4 linked regions of the Homo sapiens genome follow. The protein of the gene in region 3 interacts with the protein of the main gene of each other region in a biochemical or structural test. Each region holds a gene or a part of one and is shown on either strand. Other genes may lie near its edges.

Region 1 (7,221 bases), on a different chromosome or scaffold from region 3:
GGCGGAACTGTGTCCCCCAAGATTTGTATGTTGGAACCCTACTCACTAGGACCTCAGAATGTGGCTGCAATTGGAGCTAGGGTCTTTCAAAGGCGATTAAAGTAAAGCGAGGTCTGTGGAATGGCCCCAGTCCAATCTGACTGGGGTCCTTATAAGAAGAGGTAATGAGGACACAGGCACACACAGAGGGACGAACCTGTGAGGACACAGGGAGAAGATGGCATCTACAAGCCCTGTTGGCTGCTCTGCCTGGAGCCCGATGCCAGGCACTGACAGGCACAGGCTGCCCTCGGTGTTGTGGGGAAGAAAAAGAGCAGCTGGAGGTGTCTGTCCCTGGGCCAGGGGGCCCTCTGCTCCCTCCTCTCCTCTACCCAGAGAGAATCCTCCTTTATGTCTCAGCTTGGGGCTCCAAAATAGCCAAGTAGCCAGGAAATAAGGCGAACATCCATCCATGGATGAAAAATAAACAGCATGTGGTCTGTGCACACGACGGAATGCCACTAGGGCAGAAAAGGGGAGGACACACTGGCACACGCCACACCGTGGATGAGCCTCAAAGTGCTGCGCAGGCCCCACTGCGGGGAGATGTGCCTTCCATCCCACCCCTGCCTGCGGGGGCTCCTAACTTTGCCAGAAGCAAAGTGCCAGCTTTGCCCCAGAGGGACTTAGAGGGGCAATGGTTTCCCTCTCCCCACTGCTCGGGTCCTGGGTCCCGTAGCCAGAAGGGGCATTCCAGTCTTCTCGCCTCATCTCCTGGCTGTGTGACCCCGGGCAAGTCACTTCACCTCTCTGAGCCTCCCTTTCTCATCTGTAATGTGGGGCTGATCAGGGCTGCTCCCAGAATTTCAGGGACCCATGGTCTCCCAGTGACACAGGCAGGCTGGGTCTCTCTCCCACTGCTCTTGGGGACAAGGATGGGGTAAGAGGATGGGGGGGCAGGCAACATAATTAGAGTGAGTTTGGGGCTGGGAGTCAGCATCACATCTGACAGTCCCTGGCCAGCCACCTGCGGCCACACCATAGGACCCTGTTCTCTGCCCTCTCTCCACCCCAGCTCTCTCTCCAGGGGAAGAGGCTAGGGGCAGACTCAGGTACCAGATAGGGCTGGGGGTGCTCTGGGGGACAGGGTCCCAGTGCAGAGGTTCGGGGGATGCTGGTAGGAGCACTTCTGCTGGGCCTGGGGTGTCCAGCCTGGGCTCTGGAAGAGACCAATTAGTCAAATGACTACAGTTGACCATTTGGAAGCAATTAACAGGGTCGCTATTAGCGCATGGTGCACCCCCCGCCTGGCTCCGAATGGGAGGGAGAGGGGCGAGGTTGCCATTATGTGGGTGCCTCTGCCCCACCCCACACACAAGACTTTGTGGCCCAGCCCCCTGCCCCTGCCGGGCAGATGTGGAGGAATCAGGTTCCCCTCCCTTGGCTGGGCCTGAGGGTCCCAGAGTCCCAGGGTGGGGGTCTGGGGGGCTTCCTGGGCTGGAAAGATCAACAGGTTTAGATGAGGAGGAAGAACTCAATAGGTGGGTGAGCAAGGGCCTGGAGGCGCAGCCCAGAAGATGTGGGAAGTGAACTAGAGGTCCACGCGGGTGGGTGAGCATCCCCAGGGTTCCCCCAACACTACGGCATTTGTCAGAGGGGCTGGGGCAGCTGGAGAAGGCAGCTTTGGGCTCCAGACCACTTCCCGTGACTGCAGGGTGGACCGCAGATGGAAGGACCGGGCTGAAGGCTGTCGCCAGCGACCGGAGGAGAGAGGAAAACTTGGCCCAGAGAGCTTGGCTGCCTCGGAAAAGTCATGCTTACCAGAACAGCAGACAGTGAGCCAGGGCCACCAGGAGGGACCTCAGGCAGGGCACCGGCTGTCCTGGTATAACTGCAAATTGCGCCCTCTTTCACTCTCAAAGGCAGCAGGGTTTGCGTCATAAACTGTGGTCCCCTGCGGCTGGAGCATGCCCTGCGCTGATGGGAGGCCAGAGGCTTTGCAGAGGTAATGCCACTCAGTTTCCGGCCCTACCTTTGGGGCATCACACACATGAGAAACCAGTATCTCAGGAGCGACACTACACAGCCAAGGCCTCGTGGCAGGAAGTGGCCGAACCATTCATTCATTTTAGGAGTATGCACTGAGTGGCTGGTGTGTCAGGTTCTCCCTAGGAGCTGGAAACCTCTTGCCCATCCCCTGAGCTTCCCTCCTATAGAGGGGTCACCTTTGGACTCCTGCTTCAGGGCAGCAGCCCCTGCCCTCATCTTGGGTTCTCGGGCACACGGCAACCTGGCAGTGGGCAGGGCTGGAGACCAGAGCCCGGGAGTTTCCCTGGGAACTGCTGGGGGCCCCAGGTGTAGAGCAGGAGGGGCATGGACACCCAGATTGCCTTGGTCAGATTTTTCTGGCTCCTCCCAGTCCTCCAGAGGGGGTCCTGCCAAGGAGGCAGCCGGAGCCTTGACAGGAAAGGGCATCGGAAGTCCCCTGGCCCCAGCAGGCTGCTCTTGCTCTCTCTCTCTTAAAACATTATTGTGTCCTCTCTCCTCTCTCTGTCAGACTGTGCCCCCTGACTGCACCCCTCTCTGAATTTCTTGTGCACCCCCCACCCCCGCCACTACATCTCCTCTCTTCTTGGCCAGGTGTCAGGAGGTAGCAGAGCTAAGGCATTTAGAGCAGCGACCTCCTTCCTGTGCCTCTTCCATGCCTCTTAGGGAGCCCAGGTGACCACACATCCCAGCCCAGGCCTGCACAGGGCTGCACTGGACAAGCTCTCCTCTTGCTGCTGTCCTTTGGGGCTTTCCTGTCACCAGCCTCTGACCCCTGTAACACAGTCTCCATCAAGAGTCTGAGGCTCCAGTAGTTCAGTGGCTGGCCTCTGGCCTGTTCAAGGACTCTCACAAGCTGGCCCTGGGGCAGCGGCTAGGAGACCCTGACTAAGACTGAGGTGCTCGGGGATGGCTTGGGGGCGCCCTCCTTCAGGATGGCCACCTGGACCCTGTGCACGCTGGAGTGGGCTCACAGAGGACACACTGCCCTGTGTGTATTGGGCCATGGGAGCTGGACACGTCCCAGGGGTGTGTGCTCACTGCCACAGCTCATGGTGCCCTGCACACTTGCCTGACCCCAAACCCTGATGCAGATGGCAGGCTGGGGAATGTCAGCCCACCCAACTCACCCCAGAGCCCCTGGTCAACTTGGAGCCAAAGCTGTGGCCTAGACCCCTGGACTCCACAGCGTGCCCTCCTCTGGGGCAGGGTTGAGAGAAGCAAATCCCCTGTGCTGGCCCCTGCTTCCTGCTGGCCCCAGGACCCTGGGGGACAGAGGACCAGGAAGCAAGAGAAATGGGTGGGGACATGGCTTTTCCCGATACTTTTTGAAGCCCCTCTTCACTGGGCCCCCTGAGATACACCTTGACCCCCACACAGTCCAGGGGACCACCTGGGCATCTGCACTGATTCAGATCCTCCAGGCCAGGACTCCCCCACACCCATTCCCAGCTTCTACCGGGTTCCTCTTGTCATCACCCACCCGCTGTGGCTACCAGACTCCCTGTGCTTTTCTCTGGGTGTTCTCCGCGGCTCTGTCTTCTTTCCATCTCCCCTGCCTCCTCTTTTTGGCGATCTCTGTCATTCACATTTTCCATGTCTTTCCCGTCCTTTCCTCCTCCGTTTCTGTCTGTCTCTATCTGCATCTCTTTCTCTCTAGGGCTCTCTGTCGGCGCCCACTTCTCTGGCTCTCGCGTCCCTCCTCCCGCCTCCCCAGGCCCCTCTCTGGACCGTCACTGGGACGGGATCCTCCGAGGCCTGCCAGACGAGAGCTAACCCCACCACTCCGGGTGCCCAGTTGGTGTGCGCAAAAGGAGATAGCATCTCCAGACCCGGCCTGCCCCGCGCCTTGCAAGGCTGAGGACAGCGCCACTGCTCCTGCAGGAAGCGCCGGGCGCAGACACAAACCCGGAGCTCCCCACGCGTGCCCGCGCCCCGGAGCCTCCCTGCCGCCGCCCTCCGCGGTCCCCTTCATTATGCGCCGCCTTTAATGGGCGTTTGTCAGCTCGACTTCCCCGCAAGTTGTTTTCACGGACATCAGTCATCGGCGGCGGCCCCATTGTGCAGGGGGATTGATGGGGAGCGGGAGGGGGTGACAGGGCCTGGGGCGGCCTCCTCAAGGCCTCGGTCTATAATTTTCGGAGGCATAATTGGTCTGGGGGAGGGGGCGGGGGAGGGGCGGGTAGGGGACCTTTCAGAGCCAGGAGGGCTTTCGGGGGCGTGGGGCGCGCTGCGGAGCGGAGCCGCGGCTCGACGGCGGTGCGCTGGCGGCGAGTGTATGCAGACGGCGCCCGGCCCGAACCCCGAGCCCCGCGGGGCTCCCCACCCGCCGGCCTCCCGCCCCTCCCGCGCCTCCGCCTGGGGACCACGTCGGCCTTTTGTTGGCGAACCGTCCTTTCTTTCAGCGCTTTGCGCAGCAACGGAAATTTCATTGCTCCTGGGTGGAAATTAAAGGGACTCGCGTTCCCTCTCTCCCTCTCCCTCTCCCACTCTCCCTCTCTTTCTCTCTCTCGCCCACCCTTCCCCCTTCTTCCCCCACCTTTCCCGCGAAGCCGGAGTCAGCATCTCCAGGCGCGGGATCCCGCTCCGAGCACCTCGCAGCTGTCCGGCTGCCGCCCCTTCCATGGGCGCCGCGCTCGCCTGCAGCCGCCGCCGCCGCGGGGCGGGCGCGATGCCACGATGGGCCTAATCTGGCTGCTACTGCTCAGCCTGCTGGAGCCCGGCTGGCCCGCAGCGGGCCCTGGGGCGCGGTTGCGGCGCGATGCGGGCGGCCGTGGCGGCGTCTACGAGCACCTTGGCGGGGCGCCCCGGCGCCGCAAGCTCTACTGCGCCACGAAGTACCACCTCCAGCTGCACCCGAGCGGCCGCGTCAACGGCAGCCTGGAGAACAGCGCCTACAGTGAGTGCCGGACGCTGCGGGGCCCCGGGGGAAGCGGCGCCGGGAGGGGTCGGGCCCGGGAGAAGGCGCGCTGCGGGGCCCCGCGGGGGAGGCGGCGCCGGGGAGGGGTCTGGCCCGGGAGAAGGCATGGTGCGCCCGGGGTGTCCGGGAAAAGACCGTCTGCCTCCCGCTGCCAGAAGGGGAATGCCAGGGTGCCCTCCTCAACCTACACGTCCGGGAGAAGAGCGCGCGCTGGGGTTCGAGCAGAACTCGGGGGCATGGGCGTTCACGTCCGAAGAGGGCGCCGGCGGCTGTCAGAGTCCGTCCCCGGTCCGGCCCGCTGGTCTGAGGGGACGCGAGCTAGGCGACCCCGGGGCTCCAGGCTCTGCTGCTTTGGGCAGCTCTGACAAGTTTAAGCCCTTTGAATGTGTCGGAGAAAAGGAGCCGGACAAGGCATTTATCATCCTCTTTATTATTTTGACGACTTCTCCTCCTCCTGCCGACCCCTGGACGCCCCGCCGTCCCCTCCGCCCTCCCCGCTCGCGGCTGCCCAGGTGGCCGCCCCCGCTGCTGCCTCTGCGCGGAGGACTCTTGCCCTGCGGAGCTCGGTTCCCTGGCCGCGGCCGCCACCGACAGTTATTCCCCGCGCTGGAATCTGCACCTCCCCCGCCTCCGCCCTGGCCGCACAGCGACAGGAGGGTGGAGGCCCTCGCCGTCGGGACGTGCGGATCACGAGCGCGGAACGGTGTCCGCCCGGGCCTGGGGGTGCAGACACACACACTCCGGCCCCCGCACGCAGGACCCGCGGCCCGGGCTGCGCTCACCGCGGGAGTCTGCCGGACTACACGGTTGGGCTCCTCTGGTCACAGGGACCTGAGGCCCGCGCCGAGCCCTTTGAGGAGCAGGATAGCGGAGCTCAGGGCCCGGGAGGACCGCGTGGGGAGCGTGGGAGGGCAGTCAAGACCACAGCTGTCCTCGGGTGCTCCGCGCGGCGCTCGGCTCCGGCCCCGGGCGCAGGAAGCGGTTCCGCCGCTTGAAGGTGGCGGCGGCGGCCTCAGCAAACCGCGGCTTCCTCCAGGAAAGCCGCAGCCCTGAGAGGGCGTCCTGGGGACATGCGCCTCCGGAGCCGCACGGTGGGCACCAGCTGTCACCAGGGGGTCCGAGTGCGCGGAATTCGTCTCACTAAGACACTCCGGTTCTCTCCAAAGCCAGGCTCCCCCTCGGAGTCGCACAGCATCCAAACTTCTTGGTGTAGGCTGCTCACGGGGAGGGGAGGGCGCGCGCCCGCAGCCGCCCCTGTCCTGCGTCGAGACTCGTGCTTCGCTGGTCCCCGGTCAGGCACCGCCGATGCCGCCCAGCCTGCGCACTGGGAAGGCGGGAGGCTCGCAGCCTGCACCACAGCACCCCTGGGCTGGAGCAAAAGCCCGGTGGTGACCGCGTCTGTGCTCGGACCGCGTGCCAGGAGGGCGCTCCTGAGAGGCATGCCTTGGAGAGGGTGCAGGCAGTCGCCCCAATCCCCTCGCAGCCTCTATTGGGAGACAATGACCCCAACCCGTCCTTTGATGTAGTCCCCCGCCCCCAGCCCCCACCACAGCACTCGTGTATCCAGAAGGAAAGGCGGGAGGGGAGATTTAAACTTTCTTATCCCTGGGGAGTGGGTGAGACCCGTCCAGCTTCCCTCTGCGGGCTCCAGGGTCTAAACTGGCTTCCTGCCCTTCCAGGTCCCCCGGCGAGTACAATGATCTCCCGCCAGGTCTATTGCCAGCATGATCTGGGTGGCAGGCACCCTGGCTGTGTTATTGCCAGTGGTTTATATTATCAGCCTGGCTCATCAGGGCCCAGCTTTCCCGCTGGCAGGCACAGGCATTGGGGACCGTGCAGTCCCAGAGCTCAGACTCCCATGGCTGCCGCCAGGGCTTGATTTCCCGCTCAAGCACATGTGCAGGGGCCTGACAGTCACCCAGCCATAGTGGTCCCCACTTGCTTGTCTGTCGGATGATGATGGCAGCTGGCAAGGTGTTGTGAGGCTCGAATGAAAGCCAGGGTGCAGGCAGCGTCAGCAGGTGGGAATGTTAATTTCATTGTTACCCTCCCAAGTTTGAATGAAGAGAAGCCTTCCCTGATGTTCCCTTCTCTACCTCCTGTCCGGTGACTTCTCCCTTCCTGAACTTCCACTCACTCCCCGACCTGTGGGGTGTGTGCTACCCTCCCCAGCCCTGAGCCCGGGGTGTGGCTTTGGGCAGGGCCAGCTGGGCCTCAGCCGCCCCCTCCGTGGGGGCGGCGGGAGTGAGGCACCTCTCATTTCTTCTAGGTATTTT
Region 2 (7,864 bases), on a different chromosome or scaffold from region 3:
GGGTACAGTACCATAAAGGTACACCTCATTCCTGCCTGAAACCATATTGCGAAAGATGAAAATCTGACATTTATCCATTCAGTTATTAATTGTATCCTGTGCTGTGCAGAAGAGAAATTAAGTCTGGAGGAGAAGGAAAGCGGTTAAAGAAGAGCTTTAGCGGAACTGAGCTAGCAAAGCCTGAGAACATTGCCTGAGAGGGTGGAAGTATGGGTCATGGCCAGTGAGCTTGCAGGGCACACTCCTTCATCTTGCCACTGTTGCTTTTCCTGAAGTGAACTGCAGTTTCTAAGGGAAGATGCACACTCTTGCATCATCAAATGGAGGCAACTAGAAAGGAAACTAGACCTCATCTGTGACTTTCTTCCCCTCACTTTACTTTCCCCTGAGAACCAAAACCAGGGACGATGTCGTTTTGTTCATGACTCCTAAATGCTGTCATATTTAAGTATTTGTTCTCCAAGTTTTGAGTGAGTTCTCATTTTGCTTTTCCAAGAGAGGCATGTCAGATAAAGATTATATTTGCTACCTTCAAACTTTATCCTTATCCAGTGTAGCTGAAAGCCCTTTAAAAAGGCAAGTTGCTTTCTGAAAAAAACAATGAGTCTAAGAGAGTCTTAGCTAAATGTACTGGAAAAATATGTCCATTTGATTGTTAAGAAATAGACTAGTATGTCCAATCCATATAAACACACATCTAAAAAAAGATACTTTAAACAACAGTAAATCATAGATGCTATTTAAATAAAATTTTTTGTACCATTTTTAATGGTTATGTACTTTTTTTTATTTGTTTGTTTTGTTTTTTGTTTTGAGACAGGGTCTGGCCCTGTCACTGAGGCTGGAACTCAACGGCATGATCTGGGTGCACTGCAGCCTCGACCTCCTGGGCTCAAGCAGTCCTCCCACCTAGGTTTCCTGAGTAGCTGGGACCACAGATGTTTACCACCTACCACCATTCCTGGCTAATTTTTGTACTTTTTGTAGAGATGGGGTTTCACCGTGTTGCCCGGGCTGGTCTCAAACTCCTGAGCTCAAGTGATCCTCCTGCCTTGGCCTCCCAAAGTGCTGGGATCATAGGCATGAGCCACCGAGTCGGGCTTCAGATGTACTTTTAAAATCAATTATCCCTCAAAGTGTAGTCCCTGGTTGAATTTGTATAGAATCACTTGGGGTATTATTTAAAAGCTGACATTTCAACCCTCCACCCCGGATATACTGACTCAGAATCTCTCAATTTAGGGCCCTGGAGTCTATGTTTAGTAAAGATTTCAGGTGTTTCTCATTCTCTGCAGAAAAACAGGAAAAAAAAAAAGAAAGAAAAGAAAAACCAATAATTAAAATACAAGGAAAATAATAATTTTTGGAAACTGTGAAAGAGGGCTTTATTTTGTGTGATTTCTCCAGAACCTGACCAAGACAACCACACATTTTGGTCTATCTTTGTTCATGTAGATATAAATAAGAGATAATTAAGGTGCTTTTCTACTCTCTTTGTTAAATGTGTGTTTGTCTATTTAAGTCAAACCAAAGTCAATGTGAAGTTAAATTCTTCTCTAGACAAATTCGGATCATGGGGGTCAAGGAGATTTGGAGAAAGACATACTAAGTACCGTCTTACTAGCTGCACCCGAGGGTCCTACCCCTTTATCCATCATTTCCTCAGCATACTCTTAGGGTTCTCCTCCCCTGTGGTTGGCTTTCATGAACTTAGATTGTGGCTTACCTGGTAATGTCAAAAGTCAGAGAACTTCCATGTTTCAGTTTGCAAGGTGAGCTGCATAATAAGTTGGGCATACATGGGCAGAATGAAAACAAAACAAAACAAAAAAACACCGAAATTTGACTGTTATTCTGACTTTACTAGAATGCTTTCCTTTTAAAAGTTACTTTAAGCTGCAATTAAAGTAAATAATATGAGAAAGGCCTGCGTAATCACAGAGGATGTCTGTGATTATTCTAAAGGAAGAAAGCAATATAACTGCAAATATTATTTTAACATATTTATAATAAGGTGGCTCTATATGTTTAAAACCAAGTTTTCTGTTAAACTGACTGTTCTCCTTTGTGGTTTATTACAAAACGCATTTATTCATAGAAATGAATATGCTATGGAACCCATATAAGTAGCACACACACTGCTTTTTAAAAAAAAAAAAAAACGGCAACCCCTGTGAACATCCAAAGGCTGTTTTTAAAAGCTCAGCATGCTTGTCCTTGTGATTTCACTTTCTGGAATATGCATTTCATGATATGACATGCAAAATTATAAATCAAAGTTACCTAAGAAAATGTCGGTGTACATAATATCTTTGCCTTCACCAAGACCACATATTTGCTTAACTTTAAAATTCCAAACAGGCCAGGCACGGTGGCCCACGCCTGTAATCCCAGCACTTTGGGAGGCTGAGGCAGGCAGATCACGAGGTCAGGAGATCGAGACCATCCTGGCTAACACGGTGAAACCCCGTCTCCACTAAAAATACAAAAAATTAGTTGGGCGTGGTGGCGGGCGCCTGTAGTCCCAGCAACTCGGGAGGCTGAGGCAGGAGAATGGCGTGAACCCGGGAGGCGGAGGTTGCAGTGAGCCGAGATTGCACCACTGCACTCCAGTCTGGGTGACAGTGAGACTCCGTCTCAAAACAAAACAAAACAACTCCAAACAAACACTAGGAAAGGATCCCCTACAGCTTTTGGAAATGTTTTTAGTAATTCACAAATGAAAGTGACAACATTTAGAAGACAATCTCGGTATTCAGACATCATTATTTATTGACACTTGGCTTTATACACATGCCTGCTTGGGGTCATTATAGTTAGCTTCTTTACTCTTCGTTAATATTATGTTTAACATACTTAAAAAATATTTCCATTTGCAATTCTGAGCAATTTTAAAACAAATCATTGAAGTCGTGTAAGCTTATGCCAAAATTACTAGGTTTCCAGCCCAAGTAAAGAGTGGCCCCAACCTTTTTGGCACCAGGGACTGGTTTCATGGAAGACAATTTTTCCATGGACCTGGGGGTAGCAAGTGATGGCTTGGGGATGAAACTGCTCCATCTCAGATCGACATTAGATTCTCATAAGGAGTGCGCTACCTAGACATCTCGCATGCATAGTTCACTATAGGACTGAAGCTCCTATCAGAATCTAATGCTGCCACTGATTTCTCACCTGAGGCACAGCTCAGGCAGTAATGTTCCCTGGCCTGCCGCGGCCCAGTTCCTAACAGGCCACTGTCATTGTGAAGAGTTTCAGGATGGTGATGGCAGAACAGGCCTTCTAAGAGTGCGACTGTACCATTGTACAGCTTGCATGTCCATGAAACTGGCTTTGCCTATAGAACCTTTTGAACAAGATGACCCTGATTTTCTAATTCGCTGAGAAACACACCAAGGCCAATTAATTTGACTGGCCTTTCTGATTTAAGCTATGTGAAGAAATACACATGTAAGATGATGTATTTGAAAAGCACTCATAATAGGATAGCTGCAGATGGCTGTCATTGCAATTTGTTAACAGGCAGATCTCAAAATTGCAGAGTGGAACCTGTGTATAAGAATAGGGAAAAGGGTGGGAAATTGCAAAACAACTATATAGGCTTTGTGCAAAGAGGATTCCAGCCTTCTGATGTAGCTTTGAGTAGAGCGAGTGCATCTAGATACCCTGACTGTGCTTAGCTGGGTGCTTATAGAGATCCCGTTTTCGAAGGTGAAAGTGCAATTGGGTAGGAGAGGGTGGAGATGTCAGAGCAAAGGAACAGCAGTCAGTTGTTGTCCATTCGAATAGGAGTGTGCCTGGGTCTTTTTTCTCTGGGCTCTCCTACCTGCAAGGGGACTGTCACTTCCTGATGGGGCTCAGGGGAGTGTAGAGCTTTGTTACAAGTTGTGTCTTATCAATGCCTCCTGTCTTTCTGTGGCAGGATCCTGGCTGGGGAGGGAGAATTTGTGTGCTGAGAGAACACTAGACAAAAACGACAGGAGAGGACGGAGCAGCCATTCCAAAGCTAAAAAGCCTGAGTCAAGAGGCTCGGGCAAATCGTGGGGAAAGAAAGAGATTAAGACGCAAGTCTATTTAGAATAAATCACTCACTTTGGGGCGTGCAAGGCTTACTAGAAAAACAGACACCTGAGGAAACAAGGCGTGTGGACCTAAAGGTGGTTAGCTATGCACTGAGACTGTCTCCAGGGAAAACAGTGCGGGAGGGAGGGAGGGAGGGATGCGGGAAGGACGGAAGAAATGCAAGAGGGAGAGAAGGAGGAATTTGTCTCCGGGACACTGTAGGGCAAATGTCCACGCTCCCCTCCCCGTCTGTCTTACTGCCATTTGTTTTCTTCACTTCTTTCCACTACCTGGGCAAAGGAAATTCGAATATGTGAAAGCGTGGGAAAAGCCTGGACCCAGGGGAGGTCGGGGAGAAAGCAAGCCACTTAGGGGCGCGGGGTCAATCCCCAGGCAGGTGGGACGCCCCTGGGGGTCCTGAGGCCTCTTCCCTCCTGCTGAAGGGAGCACCCCTCCTGGCAGGCCTGGACCTGCTCACACCGACGTTTACCTGGACGGAGGGGGAAGGTGGGAGGGGCAGGAAGCGGTTGGTGCGAACGGGAGAGGCGCCTGCGTGGGAGCTGGGCCCCTCGAGACCTGCGCGGCGTGGAAAGCCGCTCGGCGTCGCCCTCCCCCGGAGCGCCCGGGCTCGCAGCTGACGAGACCGGCCCATGGGCCCTGCGCCCGGCCCCCCTGTCACTCACACGCCTTCCAGCCAATGGTGCGGCCTCCTGTCCCCCTCACCCCACCCCTCGAGGGCGAGCTGGGAGGGAGGTCGGCGAGGAGGGTCCGGCCGGAGTTGAAGGATTGAACTTTCCGGCTCAGTCGCGGCGTCTGCCTGGTCCTCAGCAGTGCAGCCCCGGCGCGGAGCAGGGAGCCTCGGCCCGCGCCCGGCGCCCTCGCCCTCGCCCTCGACCCGCAGCCATGGTGCCCGGGGTGCCCGGCGCGGTCCTGACCCTCTGCCTCTGGCTGGCGGCCTCCAGCGGCTGCCTGGCGGCCGGCCCCGGCGCGGCTGCTGCGCGGCGGCTGGACGAGTCGCTGTCTGCCGGGAGCGTCCAGCGCGCTCGCTGCGCCTCCAGGTGCCTGAGCCTGCAGATCACTCGCATCTCCGCCTTCTTCCAGCACTTCCAGGTACGGGGAGGCCCCCGCCCGGGTTCTTTCTGGGGCTGCGGCCGCGGCGTGGGCGCACCGGGGCGCGCGCCTCCCAGCCTGGGCTCGCAAAGTTCTCGGCCAGCGCCGCCGGCTGATCCTGGCTTCCCCTGGGCGTGGATCTTACAGTCGGGGTGCTGGAACTCTCCTTTCCAGCCTCTTCCCGGCTCCTGAAAAGAAAAAGAAGCCCGAGACATCTTGCCCCAACTCCCTCCTTCCCAGCAGGAAACCAAAGGCGATTTCCCTGGGGAGGGAGAGTCGTGGATGCTGGGAGTGGGTGTGTGGATGTGGCGGTTTCCCGGGAATTGGAGTGCGCGAGACTCCGGGCGGGCGGCGACTCCCGCAAAGTCCCAGGCGCTCCGGGGCACTGGGAGGGAGTCTGGGAGGCGCGTCCGGCTGCGCCTGGGGACCTCACCTCGAGCCCCAGCCCCGCAGGTGCCCGCGGGCCGACACTTTGTCTCTTTTGAAAGATGGTTTTCACTCTCTGAGGGCTCAGAGCTCGCTGCCCACCCTTGGAGCCCCAGCCAGGGTACTTGTGCCAAGTCGTGTTCCAGGGTGCGTGTATGCGCGTGTTGGGGGTGCGAGTGGCTGTGCGCGCCTCAATTCGGAACCCCAAAGATTCAAGGTCTTGCCCTGGACTAGCGTAGAGCGTCAGGGAAGAAGTGCCGGGGACAGGGGATTTGGCGGGGCCGTATTCGGATACTCCTCAACGAGTCCCGGGGGAACCGTCCCCCAAACCCCGAACGTAGGTTCTTTCAGCCTGAGGGTGGGGAGTATGTGTGTGTGCGCGCGCGCTTGTGTGGGAGGCTCCGGGAGCCGCGCGCTTGGCTCCAGCGGGTTGCCGGGACTCTGCCCTGTGGCGCGGACCCCCGCGGGACTTGCGCGAGGCTCCGGGTGCGGGTGGGCGCACGAGAGCAGGTTCCGGACTCAGCGCGAGCGAGTGCAGCTGCTGCCTGTACCAGCCCTGTCGAGCGTGCGAGCTCTGAAATCCTCCGCTTATTTTTCTCTTCTCTCATCCTTCTCTCCTTCTTCTTCTCGCCTCTATCCCTAGGTGCCCACCTGTTCCAAGTTCCCAATTTCTCGCTTCAGGGAAACTCTGGAGGGACCAAAAGGAGAAATGGGGGCTGGGGGGAGGGGTTCCCCTGGCTGGGCGGGAACTGGAAGCCAAACCCTTGGCTCTTAAACTGGGCGCCCCTCCTGCCAGAGCTGGGTCAAGGGGTGGGGGGGGGGGTCCCCCTAGAGGCCCTGGGAATTAAGCTGCCAGAGGAGGCCATATTAATAAGGGTGGAATGTGGAAGTGATTCCCCTTACCCTCGGGGATGATCTTGAACCGGCTGGTGAAGCTGGCGCGTTCGCGAGTGTGCAGTTGAGTTTGTTCTAAGTCGTAGAAGCAGCGTCTCGTGGGTGTCAGAGAAATGGGCACGCTCTGTAGTCCTTCTGCGTCTTCAGGGAATGGAAGACCCAGTGCTCACCTCCTGTGGTGAAATTACCCAGACATCCTGGACAGAGCCAGGAGAGGGCCGATCCCCAGGCACCTGGTTTCCAGCCCTCCGAGTCCTACCCTGAAAGTCACTCTCCTAAGATGCCACACTATTGTTTGAAACAACAGAAAACAAAACAAAACGGAGCAGCCTATTCCCAGGGAGAAAGAGTACCTTTTTTTTTTCTTTTTCTTGAATTGTCAGTGCTGTAATTTATTTGTTTTACAGTTTCAGTGGCTAAAGCACCAGCTTAGATGAAGCCAGTTCCCGTGAAAGGCTTTTCTTGTGGTCTCCTTGGCATGATTTCTCTTTGGAAGAAAAACTGCTGACAGAATGCACATTGCTAGACAATCCTGATTACATTTTAATTAGCTGGGGGTGAAATAAGCTGCAAATTACTCAGTTAAGACTTAATAAGTGCTGTGTTTGTAATCAATTGCAAAGCCATTCTGGGAGCCTTAACCCTAACCTGGTAATGCCTATCTGATTTATCTAAATTGCAGGGATTAAGTGTTTTTAAGATCTGAAAAGCCAGCAACACATTCTCCTTATAAAACCCCAAGCTTCCCTGTTCCCCACCGCTTGCCTTCCTTTTTTTTTTTTTTTTTTTTTTTTTTTAATAATTAGAAGGAAGATGGGCCGGGCGCAGTGGCTCATGCCTCTAATCCCTGCACTTTGGGAGGCCAAGGCGGGCAGATCATTTGAGGTCAGGAGTTTGAGACCAGCCTGGCCAACTTGAAATCCCGTCTCTACAAAAAATACAAAAATTAGCCTGGTGTAGTGGTGCATGCTGTAGTCCCAGCTACTCAGGAGGCTGAGGGAGGAGAATCCTTGAACCCGGGAGGCAGCGGTTGCAGTGAGCCGAGATCACACCACTGCACTCCAGCCTGGGTGACAGAGCAAGACTGTCTCAAAAAAAAAAAAAAAAAAAAAAAAAAAGGAAGGAAGGTGGAGCAATCAGTCTGCAGACAACTCATGACTGGGCTACGGGAAGTCTTAAGAAGATTGCTTTCCTACAGGGTCACCCCCGCCCCCAACTCCTGCAAATGAGCCCACCCATAAAGCTGTCTCTGGAGCAGGTGCCTGTTTCCATCTTCTCTTGCACGGTTTCAGGCCATGTTTAAGGATGGGAGAAGCTTGCCTGGCCTCCAGCCTGGATGCCCGCCAGGTATGTGGACTCTCAATTATGAAAG
Region 3 (7,030 bases):
ACCCCGGACTGCTCCACCAGCAGCTACACTGAAGGCAGCCTCGGGGATGTCCCTCTGTCTTTGGTTTCATGAGTCAGAACTCACAAAATGAAGTTCTGAGAAAAATCATGATTTGAGAGGAACCCATAGTTGAACTATCTGACCCTATGGAAAAAGAATAAACAAGACCACAGACTCCAACCAACAGCCAACAGGGGAGTGTGTGTGTAAAACACTACGCATGTCTCACAAGACAACCAAGGACAAGGGGCTTCTAGAAGGAAGTTCTTACCTCATTGGTTGTGAGAGTGAGAATTCGATCCAAGTCTTCTACCAACTGCTTGAACGTTGGTCTCTGGGAGGGCACTGCATGCCAACAGTCCCTCATCATCATGTACCTGGGAAAAATGGATTTCCTTGAATTAATTTCATATGCACTGGGTACGTGGTTATAGTCAGTTTTAATAGGCAATATGGGGACGTGGTGTAAATTAGGAAAATGCATCAGAACCTTCCAAGCAACTAGATTAGGGGGTCATGAATCACTTTCCCAAAAGCTTCCCTGCCAGTTCCTCCGAAAGGCACTTTGACTTACAAAAACATGTTAGAAAGGCATCGAAGCCATCAAGAAAGACACAGCTATGTGTTTTCCCTGGTAACCCTGGGCCACAGTGACATCTCACAATGGCGTCACACCCTAAAGATGCTTTGGAGGCTGAAGGAAAATGCGTATTTCCATGGGCTGGTCTCCAGTCTTCCCTCCCCTGACACCCTGCCCAGCACCAAAGCAGCTCCACTATTTATCTGCCCGGTGCTTTGGGTCTTAATGATTCTAGTTGACACAGCTTCCTGAGTTAAAAAAAAATTAAATAAAATTTGAAAACTACAACTTCAAGTTTTTGATGAATTAATCTGCCACCACTGGGCTGCACACTAACTTCCTGATTAACTCTTAGATAGGCTTAGCTTCCCAGGTCTTATCTTGATTTTGGGTTTCGACAGATCCTCTACGTTACAAAAGAAAAAAAACAATAGGAATGACAAAGAGCACAATAAATGCCTTTATATAATATGCTATAAAATGTGGCCATTCATCAGACATCCACGGTACACCGAAAAGCACTCACGGGATTACTGATATAAAATCCCCATGAAATGATACACAATAGACCGCAGTTTCTGGGACAATCACTCTTCTTAGTTAATCCTGGAGGGGTTGAGGCAGGAGGCAGAGAGACTCCTTTCAAAGCACTGATTCTATTGCACCAGGCACACGTCACAAACACAACATAACTCCACTTAAAGTGTGAGGCAGGTTTTGCTACAAACCAGTTCATGGTTTTACAGGCAGATCTGGTACAGTAAGGAGGGCGCCTGGACACATGTTTAATTCTCTGCACTAAAACACAAGTGAGACCTAGGTAACCAAACACGAGTTCCTTCGCTCTGAGGAAATGTGGTTGGCGTCAATCTGTAATGGCAATTTTCAATGGTTCGAGAAGTTCTGGAAACACCGATTCTCTACTGGCCACGATGGGGCCAGGCGGGGGCCAGGCACAACCACCAGGGAAAGGCTGTGTTGGTTCCTTAATCCTACACCCTGCAGGGCGGCCCCGCGGCTTTCTAGCTTGTTTCCTGACCCGTGGGTCTTCCTGTCACTCCACGGGAGACCGCAGAAGGTGCAGCACAGTGGCCCAGGAAGACCACTCCTGCTGGCTCTGCAAAGTCAGGAGCCCTCAGCCAGGCAGCCAGACACCCTCTGATCCAAAGCCCTCTCCATACTCAGAATAATGTTCTTTCTCTCAGACAAGTAATGGTTGTCGGTGTCGCTATGTATCCCAGCTCTGGATTGAGCCCAGAGAGCTTCAGCCATTCTTCTTAGAGCATGTTTAGGAAACCAGGGGCCTTCAAAAACGAGATACATCAGGAGAGGTATTACTGGTGTGGCAAGTCCACTGGGGCACCGGCAGGAAAGACAACAGCCCTTACAGTTCGTTGGTGCAGTTGGCTGGCTTATCCATTCTGTGTCCTTCCTTCAGCAGCTTAAAAAGTTCCTCCACGGGAATCCCTGGGTAGGGCGAGCCCCCTAAAGTGAAGATCTCCCACATTAACACCCCGAAGGACCAGCTGCAACAAAAGGAGAAAGCACGGCATTACTAACCCATCCACGTTGCCAAAACCTAAACACGCCCAGCTGAGACATAAACACCTCCTCACTTCTGAAGTTCAAAGACAAATGGGCCCTCCTGCAGTTCCTCCTATGTGCTCTTTCCTGCCCTGCAAGAGCATCCCCGAATGATGATGACACGGGGATGTGCTGATGGAATTTTCCATCAATAGACAAAAAGGCAAACTGCCATCACTCTGGAATAGAGCTGCTTGTCTTAAATGTGGTGTTAGCAATGCAAGGATCTCAGTTTCTCAGTTTCAAAGCCTTTACGCTCCTTTCCAACTCCTTATGTGCCTGACCCAAGGGTTGTGATCTACCAGGATGGGCAGTTGACAGAATAAGGCCAGCAAGCCAACTCCGCAGGATCACAGCTGCCCTGTGTGGCTGGCGGAACATCTGCTGCACAGAGGCTCTGGAACTTACTAAGATCGCAAAGGCAATCAGCACTGGGCTGGGGTTAGGATGAGGAATCACATGCCCCAGATGAGTTGCACACAACAAAACTGAACACATCTCACAGGCCATAATTTATTTACACTTGACTCTTCAGAGATTTGGACTTCCTGTGCCAAGTTCAGGAGGCTCAATCTCTGGGAGGAGCAAGCTGAGAGAGCCAGGTTTAGCTACATCATGGTCGTTCTGGAAACTCAACCTTCTGTACTCGATGGTGGTGTTTCACTCCGCAGTTTTCTACAGAGCAAAAGCAGCAGCACAGGACAGGCAGAACAGCCTCTGTGCCTCAGTTGCTCACAGCAAAAATGGGATAGTCATGTCTTTTTTTTAGGATTGTTGAGAGGACCAACTATGGTAGCACAGAATTAATGCCTACCCAGAACTCCTCCTGCTCATACAAATAAAAAATAGTTCAAGTGATTTTTTTTTCCCCAGACAGAGTCTCGCTCTGTTGCCAGGCTGGAGTGCAGTGGCACAATCTCAGCTCACTGCAACCTCTGACTCCCAGGTTCAAGCGATTCTCCTGCCTCAGCCTCCCAAGTAGTGGAGATTACAGACACGCATAACTACGCCCAGCTAATTTTTGTAGTTTTAGTAGAGACGGGGTTTCACCATGTTGGCCAGGATGGCCTTGATCTCCTGACCTCGTGATCCACCCGCCTTGCCCTCCCAAAGTGCTGGGATTGATTACAGGTATGAGTCACTGCACACAGCCTTCAACTGAATTTTCAAATCTAAAATATCAGTTGGAGCCTGACCCCACTGGTTTTGTCAGTATATCATAATAGAAATATTCTACTGTGTTTCTAGAATGCTATCAAGGATGCCAAAGCAAGATCAGACCTTTTTGTTGAGGGATAAACATAGAGAGTAGACCCTGTGGAGGTCCCCAGCCTGGACCACATCTCACTCAGCTCCACTCTTTAAGGACAAATCTGGGTTAGAGGGAAATATGACAAACTACTCGTAAGTGGGAAAAGCTCCAGGATTACTCCTTTAATGGAGTGAAGAACATGCCAAGAGCTTGGCGAATTAGATAACCGCTTTGTAGTTGCACATCCATGAATATGTTCAAGGGAAGGACTTCCGCTCTGGCAGGGGGAGGTCAGCAGTTCCACCTTCTGTGCTCTTTGAAGCCAGGCAGATTAGTAACAGAGCATTGGTTATCAGCCTACCATAAAATCTGTCCTTTCTAAGGCCAGCTCCTGCACCTTCTACGAATGTGTGAAATGCAGCAGCCACTAAAGAAGGAAGAAAGGTGAAGTACGTACAGTATTTTTGCAGCTCAAGCCCAGGAAAAAGCCAGAGAAAAGAGAGTTACTCACACATCACTCTGATGAGTGTATACTCTATCAAACAGGGCTTCTGGAGCCATCCACTTGACTGGAAGCCGCCCCTGCAAATGTAGAGGAAAATGCAAAAACTAAATATATTTAAAAGAATTTATCTTAGCAGGCTCAATAGGGCTATGCCCTGTTTAAGAGCTGATATTCTCGGTTTTTACTAGTCAGTCAATAGAGCAGAAATCAGTCCCAATGAGGACCATGAACAATGTGTGAGATGCACAGGTCTGGGCCGTTAATAAAATGCCATCTCCTTGGATTCTATCCTTTATCTCCCTAGCACACAGATGCTCCTTGACCAGTTATTAGGCAAAAATTAAACCAGTAACTTCCAAGCTGTAGTTTTTGCTATGAAAGTTCTTGATGAGAACCATAAGAAAATCCTAGCGGTTGCTGATTATTCTGTATATAAGTGTTTCACATTTACTAAAATTGACATAATAGAGGCTAAATTTGCATATTGAGAGTTTGTGAATAGTAAGTCAAAAGAACGGGAATCGGGGCAGGGGAATGGGTCCCCAGCCATCCCACCCAGCTCTCAACATTGACGGCCTTTCTTCCTGGAACATTCTGAGCCTCACCCCCGCCCCTGCCCACTGTGTTACTGCCATCGACTTACATTGGTGGTCTTTTTGTAATAGTCTATATTGTTGATATCTCTGGCGAGTCCAAAGTCTGCTATTTTCATCACATTGTTTTCTGTTACCAAAACATTTCTGGCTGCTAAATCTCGATGAATACACTGAAATCAAGAAAGAAGCAAGAGAAATAACTAATTTCAAAACACCGCCAGAACAAAAAGGAAATATGTTCATTTCTTAAAATGCAGATAGAAAATATAGCTGATGTTAAAAACCAGTTGCGGTATACTATAAGAAATACAGTGTGGCCGGGTGCGGTGGCTCATGCCTGTAATACCAGCACTTTGGGAGGTCAAGGTGGGCGGATCACTTGAGGTCAGTAGTTCGAGACCAGCCTGGCCAACACGGCAAAATCCCATCTCTGCTAAAACTACAAAAATTAGCCGAGCGTGGTGGTGTGCACCTGTAGTCCCAGCTACTCAGGAGGCTGAGGCACAAGAATCACTTGAACCTGGGAGACAGAGGTTGCAGTGAGCTGAGATCACGCCATTGCACTCCAGCCTGGGTGACAGAGTGAGACTCTGTCTCAAAAAAAAAAAAAAAAAAAGAAAGAAAAGAAAAGAAAACGCAGTGTGGCTCTAAGATTAAGAAGACAGGTCAACTGGGATCATCGGAGAGCCTGGATCACGACATGTATTTGTTTTGGAATTATAAATAAATAGAATGATCATTTTGAAGAGCGAAGGTAGACTAAATAACCATATTCTCTTCTACCTCCAGTTGTCCAGCCACACCAGTGTCTTTCTTTCAGCTGCTTATAGATCTGTATCTGATCATCCTAAAATCTTTTCTCTCAACACTTGCTCTCCTGCCCTTTAAACCTGAATTTTCAGAAGCGTTGGTTAAAATCCAACATTGTGTCTTCTTCATTCCTGGTCACTTCTCAAACATTCTAATCTGTGTTCCACTCTTGCCTCTCCTGAAGCTTATGAAGAACCTCTGAATTGTTAGACGCAAATGACGTCCTCCAACTCCTCAGTTGTTCCTCCTCTGTGGCTTCAGATGCTATTGATTTCTTGCTTGTTTTTTAAAATGGTCCCTCTGTTTAGGTTTTCTTGTTTTTGTTTTTTTTGTTTTAACATGGAGTCTTGTCCTTGTCGCCCAGGCTGGAGTGCAATGGTGCGATCTTGGCTCACCGCAACCTCCGCCTCCTGGGTTCAAGCGATTCTCCTGCCTCAGCCTCCCGAGTAGCTGAGACTACAGGTGCCTGCCACCACACCCGGCTAATATTTTGTATTTTTAGTAGAGACGGGGTTTCACCATGTCGGTCAGGCTGGTCTCGAACTCCTGACCTCAGGTGAGCCATCCGCCTCGGCCTCCCAAAGTGCTAGGATTACAGGTGTAAGCCACCACACCCAGCCCCTCTGTTTAGTTTTATCCCGTCCCCTTCCCTCAGCTGCCTCTCTGTCTCTCCCTGCCCTCTTAGAATCTCTGGCTGGCTCTTCTCTTTTTCTGTCCCTTCAAATAGAGGAATTGTTCCATTAAGTTTATGTATTTCCATATATCCTCAAGGCATTAATTCTAAACACATACAAAATATGCGCAAGTTCGTATCTCCATCATGACCTCCCTCCTGAGACCCATGTTCTCATTTTCAACTGTCTATGGGACACTTCCCCACTGACATTCCCTTGACGTCTCAAATTCAAGGTTTCAACTCCTCCAATGCTTTGTCTCTCTTAATCGGAGAGCTATACACCGGTATTCTTTACACATTCCTCCCAAGTCCTGTTGATTTCAACTCCAAAATGCCTTCCCATGTGTCCACACCATGCCTTTCCCACTGCTAATGCCTTAGTCCAGGCCATCTTCACTGTCTGCCCCTCCCCCTGAGACTTCCACACTGCCCGTCTAGCGGGTCTCTACGCTTCCAAACTTAGCCCTGTTGTACCTCCTCCATGTCCCATGACTAAGGTTCCTGAAATGACTAGTCATGTCCTTTCTTGGTCTCTACCATGGCCAATGCCCGTCTATCCACGTTCTCAGTCCAGTTTCTCCTAACACCTGGCCTCAGCCTGAATGTGCCACATACACTGATTCTAAACACTGAAATATTAAATACTTGCTGCAGAACAGCTAATTTATTGTCTTGACACTAACTCTTGGGTCTCAGAAAGATCTAGCTATTACGACTTTTCCTTCTTTTTTTTTTTTTTTTTTTTTTTTTTGAGACGGAGTTTCACTCTTGTTTCCCAGGCTAGAGTGCAGTGGCACGATCTTGGCTCAATGCAACCTCTGCCTCCCAGGTTCAAGTGATTCTCCTGCCCTCAGCCTCCCAAGTAGCTGGGATTGCAGGTGCCCACCACCACATCAGGCTAATTTTGTATTTTTGGTAGAGATAGGGTTTCACCATGTTGGTCAGGCTGGTCTCAAACTCCTGACCTCAAGTGATCCACCCGCCTCGGCCTCCCAAAGTACTGGGATTATAGGCGTGAGCCACCACG
Region 4 (7,000 bases), on a different chromosome or scaffold from region 3:
CATATTTGAGAACTATTGGTATAGAAGGTTGGTTAACTTGCCACTATTCTGATTGAGCACACAGTAAATATATATTTAGCACCCACTCTCTGAGATTCTTTGCAACCCTATGAGCTATAGGCCAGCGGTCCCCAACCTTTTTGGCAGCAGAGACTGGTTTCGTGGAAGACAATTTTTTACACGAAAGGGAATGAGGAGATGGTTTGTAGATGAAACTGTTCCACCCCAGATTATCAGGTATTAGTTAGATTCTCATATGGAGTGTGCAACCTAGATCCCTTCCTTGCATTGTTCACAGTAGGGTTCGCACTCCTGTGAGAATCTAATGCTGCCACTGATCTGATAAGAGGCAGTGCTCAGGCAGTAATGCTAGTGATGGAGAGTGGCTAAATACAGTTGAAACCTCGCTCTCGCTTGCCTATGGCTTGCCTCCCGCTGTGTGGCCCAGTTCCAATATTGGTCCATGGGACATTACAGTTCCCATAATGTTTTGAGGCTTCACTTCATTTAACTTTGTTTCATTTTTAAAGAGAGGTAAAACCACATTTAGAGCCATTTAGACTCACACTATGGTATGGCCACATAATCCCAGAGGTATTAGTGAAAATGTGATAACAACCCCAAGGAGCTCCCTAAGTCCTTCTGTGCTAGGATATAATAGATGAACTTAGGACACTGACAACAATTCTTGGGAGAGAGAGGTTTCATTTAGAGAGGTTAGTATTTGTGTCTTACATTGTGCTAACTATGATATGTTTCAGCACCTTGATTAAAACTATAAAACTATATAGCATTATAATCAATTTCAAGTTAAAATGTTTAGAGAAAAATAGATGTGACTGATTCTGAATTAATGAGACTTTCCACGTTTCACAATAATTTTTTTTTGGAAAGTACATTCCTCACCCAGAAAAGCACCACTACCACTCAATGAAGCAGAACCTTTAGTTTTAGCTAGTGGCCACCTCAAAGTGCCATTGGGGGAGGTGGGGAGAAATGTGGCTCAAGCACTTGAGCTCTTTCTCTCTCCAAGCCTGTTTTTATGCATGCACTTTCTCTCCCTGGAATGTTCCTTCTCAACTTCCCAAATCCCCCCTATTAAAACCCTGCTCTTGAAAAGTCACCTCAAACACCAGCTGTCTTCTTCAGGATGGCTTCACTATTTAAAGTAATGTATAACATATTTTATCTCTCATACCACACTTAATATATTTTCTTTCTGGTTTTTTTTTTTTTTTGTATTGTCATTACTTATTTGGGTCTTTATTTTATTGAGCTTTAAAACTCCTTGAGGCAAGGACCACATCTTGTTTGCCTTTGTAACCTTCAGAATGAGAGCTAACACCTACCCTGCACACTGGTGCTTAATACACATTAGCTGAATTAATTTACTCAGTCTATAGAATTCCATTGTATATTTATGTTCTATTTATCTAGGAGTGGATAGAAGGATTTTGCACTTATTTTTCACATCTAGTTTTCCTTGTCTATATCCATTCTATTAAATACAAGTTTTATTTGCCATATACTTTCTCCTTTTGTGTTTATGGAAAAATATTTAGTGAGAAACTTACCCTCCAGACCAATAGCTTTTTCATTCTAATAGCACCAAAACAGAAGAAGCCTTTGTCCAACATGATTGCTAGGGGGACAATAGGTCAGATGCTCCTCTTCTGGAGAAGAATGAGAAGCAGCAGCTGGGAAAGATGCTTGTGAATGGCCACCTTCTCAGATTAACTATTTAGTCACTCATCAAAACATTACCAGCCCAAACAATTATATATATGAGTATTAAAAGAAAAAAATGCATTTACACGAAAATTGTGACTTCTAAGTTATTTCCACTCAGAGATTATCAAGTCACAAAATTTTCTCCATTACTAAGGTGATGATGCATCATGAGGGAACATTCGCAAAGTAATATGAACTGATTTTTGTCATAATCGCTTTTGTAATGTTGACTATCAAACTTTATTTTTTAAGATTTTAAATATAATCTAAAATAAGCTTTATAGATTGCTACTATTTACTGAAGAAATTTGCTAAATATTACTTTATTTCTAATGTATTCTTTAAACAATTTTATATTTGTAGACAAAATCCTTCCTAGTTGCCAAAATTCTTAGAATCTGCACAAGATGTTTACTAAACTGAGTCTCATTATCTCCCAACTTCACTTTTCCCAGCTTCCTGACTTGTTCCTTGTACTCCAGTTGGTAAATCAAACCTCTTATGATATTTGAAAACACCATACTGTTTTACCTTAATAATTTGCTCTTGCCTTCCCACCCTTCCCAGCCTTCCCCTGGACACTTCTTAACCTTCATGACTCAGTTCAGGTCTCATCTCCAACAATAATTTGATCGTGGAACCCCAGCCAGTATGACCTGCCTTTACCTTTGCCCCATAGTCCCCTTGTCATCATCTTAAGTCATCACTTACTGCCATGTAACATGTTTTATTGTAATTATCTGTGTTTGTCTTTTATTCCCAATAGTACATAGACTTATCAATAGAAAAGCCATTACGTATTTGACTTTATATTTTCATTTTCTAAAAGCGTACCCTTCTCCTCCTAGGTCTTCCTAAGTGATTGAACTAAATTGTCCAAAGACCCTTAAATAGATTCACAATACTACCTGGGCTATTCATGTTTTAAGGGACATAAAAACTAATATAGTTACAACTTAATATAAATAATAGAATTTCACTACAAGAATATGCCTATAAATTTACAAAATATCTGTTTTACATGAATGGGAAATATAATTCATGTGTCCTTTCATTAATAATATAATTTTCAGGTGTTTCTTTGAGTTAAAAAAAAAAAAACCTTTTTTTATAGCTTTTAATGTTAAGGTAATTGTAGAGTCATAAACTTGTAAGAAACACGGGGAGATCCAGTATGCCCTTAACTCACTTTCCTCCAGGAGGCTCTTTTAACTGGCATTTAGTTTTGATTCAAAATATACACATATAGAACTATAAGCTACTGATCCAACAATCCTCAAACAAAATTCTGGAGCTCCTTTCCAAAAATAATTTGATAGGCAAACTTGATCATCCTCACCAAAGAACAGAAAAACTGGAGTGATTCCTTACAAAAAGTAAAGAAGTCCTCTAGGCTTCAGTCCTTCAGAACTCCCCTTTCACATTCACAGATGTTTATAATAGGTGCAGTCATTGTCCATTACTCACAAGATGATCAAATTATAACTTACCTGACCATACGCTGCGTCCCAAAATTATTTTCAAAATTCGAAAGGATATTAAATCACCTATGTCTTCCCTCTATTTTGAAACAATAACTAAATAATAATATAAAAATAATAGCTAAACCTTTTTAAGCTTGCCTAAACTAGTTGCAAAGTGGAAAAAAAATGGTTGATTGAGTCTTTGAATATTGTGCTCCCATTTCAGGTAAAGCAGAAAGAAACAAAGGGGTATCTAAGCTAAATATAATCTACAATACCACTTGCAGTTCATCCTCAGAAATAACGGGTCAAAAATTCAGTTGTATCTTATACTATTACTATAGCTCAGTCTGTTAGTATAGTTTAATCCCAGGACGTTGCATGCACCTTCACAAATATTGGTTTATTTTTTGCTTAAAATCATCCTTCATTCCTCTTTGTTCTATTAATTTTCAGTTTCAAAAGTATACATAAGAGAATATCTTGCAGTTTACTGACAGTACTTTCTTGTCTTTTGGCCAGACAATGTAAGCAGCTGCCTAATCTTTTGCCCCTGAATTCTACCTCCTGCTCTGCTCTGTATCTTCTGCTTATGACATAAATAAAGTATGTTAGATTTTGTTCTCTAAGATTCAGACGTTATCCTCTATGGCATGCCATCATCCTTGGGAGGAACAGCACATTAAGTCATTAAAGAAAATTATCTTGATGAGTCATTTTGTCAGATGGTTTGCAACAGGGTTCCCTTGTAGGAATGGGAAAGAGGAGGAAGATGTGATGGAGAGGCAAAGTAGTCAGAGATGGGGAGCAATAGAGTCTAAAAGTCAGAGGCTTAAGTGTTAACATCCATTATTACCGACCTTTATCACCTTACCACCTGTGTGTGTGTGAGTTAAATAACCTAAGTATCTTCCGTTTTTATATTTGTAATCGAGACTAACAACAGTATCCTTAGAGGGCTATTGTGTGAATTAAGAAAATATTTTTCAGAATATGCAAATAAATGTGCGTGTGTGTGTGTGTGTGTGTGTACCTTAGGGAAACTACCAGCATAAGGGAAATGGATGTAAAAAAACACAAATAATGTCTCCTTCATCCTTCACAATCTTTCCTTGGTTTTGGCTTGCAAATAGAGTGAGATATATCTCTTTTGATGAAAAGGAGTGCTGTGTTAGGTCAGAGACTTCCTACAGATACATGGACAGAAGGGTCTCTGACATGTAGTCTTGGCAAAGTCTCTGGTTATGTCAACTTGGCAACAGGGGAAACTCAAGCATTTCTATTGGCCTCCATAAGGCTAACCTGTGAAGGAATAGGAAAGAAGGTATTCATCTCTCGAGAATAAGCTAAGCCACTCTATCTCTATGGGAAGAGTGAAAACATATAATCTGTAGACTGCATTGGGGATGGTGTTTCTCATGATACATGACAAATGATAATATGCTCAACTTTCAGATTTCATGTATTAAGCCAATGGGAATTTGTATGTATTGTTCAGGATTTACATAGCCCATTGAAGAATTTCCAAAATCTAGCACTGTTGGAGAAAAACTACCCTCTGATGATAATTAAGAAGATACTAAGCTCCAGGCAAATTCTAATAATTTTATAGGTACTATCTCATTTAATATTCACAACAAAATTATGAGGGAGGTACTATTATGTTGCCCATTTTGCAAATAAAATTGAGTCATGGGACACTTCAGTGACTTCTCCTATGGTAATTCACTAATAAATGTAGAGCCAGGAGTTGAACCCAGACATTTTGGCTCCAGAGGCCACATGCTAATCACGATGCTACTTCTCTACCCTGAACAAACTGCTGAGAGTTATGAAATAAGTAGTTTTAGTTCCCTAGGTCTTCTTAAACTAAAATGGGTGGGCACTTTTAGTAGACGATAAACTGACTTCCCTATTGTGATCTACAAACTTTTCCGAGAAAATTATCTTTAGATGCAGCAATCGAAACTTGTGTATAAGGGGAAAAGGAGCTCTTGTCTACCTCTTACTACTTCCCTCGATTTTCCATTTTTCCTAGGAAAAAAAAAAACCTTAAAAATCCATGTTTATGGATTTTCCCCCAACACAGAGCAGTAATTCTGCTATTTCAGGGACAGTGCAGATGTTGGGATTAGTCTCCCTGTATCTCAGAATGTCAACACATTTGCCAAAAATGAATCTATCAGTTAAATGTAGCCAAGAGATTTAGATTATCTATATCCTAGCAAGAAGAAATAGTTTATCACTGTTTTTAGAGATTGAGGTAATCTGGCATATTATTGACATGTGCTACAGATTTAATTTAATACCATAGTACAGATATGGGCTCTGATAAGTTATTTTGAAATCTAGGCTAAGATGAGTAGAGTTGTTTCAATATTTATAGGGTTGAAAATGCAGAGTTAGCAAAGGAAGCATTTTAATTAAAACAATATTTTCTATGTATGCTCAGAGTAAAATGAAGGGGAATTCTTTTAAAGCCTTATTACTTTTTTCTATATATTTGCTGGAAATACTTGCCGGGTTTTAAGACACATTGAAAAAGATTTGCTTGTTTGCTTGTTTGTTTACCAATGTTTTGTGCCTTTTGTTTTTAGAACCACACAAAAAACAACTCAATAGTTTCTTTTGATTTTACTTTTCTTCCAAATATATTTAGGATTCTTTATTTAGCCTTTTAAAATTGTATGTTTTAGGCATCCTGGAGATAACATCAGTAGAAATCGGAGTTGTTGCCGTCAAAGCCATTAACAGCAACTATTACTTAGCCATGAACAAGAAGGGGAAACTCTATGGCTCAGTAAGTATTCTGCTTTTGTTTTCAAATCCACTCCAGTAAACCATTACCATAGTTTTGGAAAGTTTCCTCCAGACACCGAATAGCTTTGTTATCCTTCTATTGCTAGTAAATAGAGCCACAGTGGGTTAGTCACCACTGTTTCAAGGGCTGGCAAAGCAGCTCTTCCAATTCTGTAATCTCCTCTGTTGTTCACCCATTAGTCTACCACACAGGCTGCTGCTGGCATTTGTCTGTGAATGTTCTAAACTGCTAACCAAGTCAGGCTCTCACGGAAGCATCCGGTCAGATTGGCATGGAAAATGAAGACAACTTGGAGAAAAAACACTAAAAACAAAGATCTTGAATTGAGTAGAAACCCATGTATTATATATGCGTTACGGCTGAAGATGAAACAAGGGCTCAGATGTTTTGCATTTTGTTAAAATCTGAAATGGGGAAATGTGTCAAGAAACACCATTTTGCTTGTTGTTCAATCAACTCTAGAATTTTATTTACCTAGACAATAACCTTTAATTCAAATTATGCCTCAAAATCATATATATATATGTGGGAAATATTCTTTGCAATAGGGTCCTTGTGGAGCAGGTATCCCTGCAGTGCTTTGGGCACATCCATGCCTATATTCCATACCAGGTGTTAAGTATTTGGAATACCACTTCTGCAATCTTGGATCAAACTCTTTTAAACCAATTTCTTAGAAATTTAAGATCTCACTTAAAATGCCAAATAGTTGTTTTATAATTGCAATTGTAATAATAATTAAATTACAAGCAGTGAGACAATTTATCCTGCTCAAGTCCTTAGAAAAAAATGCATCAATCAATCATATCAACATCTACTATATGCCAGATATTGTTTGACATATCAAAGATGCATAAGAAAGAAGTATAGAAATGGGCCTTGACTTCAAATAATTTATAATATATTTAGGGGAAATGTTAACAAATATGAAATAATTACAGCATGATTGGTTGTTACATGTATGAAAGGATCAGCTATAGCAAAG

What was found.
Region 1: the proteins of FGFR2 (region 3) and FGF3 interact in a test that uses a peptide from one of them, tested with the Homo sapiens proteins (one study listed by BioGRID).
Region 2: the proteins of FGFR2 (region 3) and ANOS1 form a complex in vitro, tested with the Homo sapiens proteins (one study listed by BioGRID and IntAct).
Region 4: the proteins of FGFR2 (region 3) and FGF10 are reported together in a solved structure, tested with the Homo sapiens proteins (3 studies listed by BioGRID and IntAct, with this or other methods).

The regions. Positions count from the first base shown.
Region 1 is NC_000011.10:69,816,417-69,823,637, reverse strand, and holds the start of FGF3 (fibroblast growth factor 3 precursor), read left to right. Parts: upstream 1-4,221; 5' UTR 4,222-4,704; coding exon 4,705-4,924; exon of another isoform or gene 4,925-4,930; intron 4,931-7,214; coding exon 7,215-7,221. UniProt on the Homo sapiens protein: Plays an important role in the regulation of embryonic development, cell proliferation, and cell differentiation. Required for normal ear development.
Region 2 is NC_000023.11:8,729,138-8,737,001, reverse strand, and holds the start of ANOS1 (anosmin-1 isoform 1 precursor), read left to right. Parts: upstream 1-4,864; 5' UTR 4,865-4,965; coding exon 4,966-5,172; intron 5,173-7,864. UniProt on the Homo sapiens protein: Has a dual branch-promoting and guidance activity, which may play an important role in the patterning of mitral and tufted cell collaterals to the olfactory cortex. Chemoattractant for fetal olfactory epithelial cells.
Region 3 is NC_000010.11:121,483,427-121,490,456, forward strand, and holds part of FGFR2 (fibroblast growth factor receptor 2 isoform 1 precursor), read right to left. Parts: intron 4,688-7,030; coding exon 4,565-4,687; intron 3,999-4,564; coding exon 3,928-3,998; intron 2,107-3,927; coding exon 1,969-2,106; intron 378-1,968; coding exon 272-377; intron 1-271. UniProt on the Homo sapiens protein: Tyrosine-protein kinase that acts as a cell-surface receptor for fibroblast growth factors and plays an essential role in the regulation of cell proliferation, differentiation, migration and apoptosis, and in the regulation of embryonic development.
Region 4 is NC_000005.10:44,309,421-44,316,420, reverse strand, and holds part of FGF10 (fibroblast growth factor 10 precursor), read left to right. Parts: intron 1-5,890; coding exon 5,891-5,994; intron 5,995-7,000. UniProt on the Homo sapiens protein: Plays an important role in the regulation of embryonic development, cell proliferation and cell differentiation. Required for normal branching morphogenesis. May play a role in wound healing.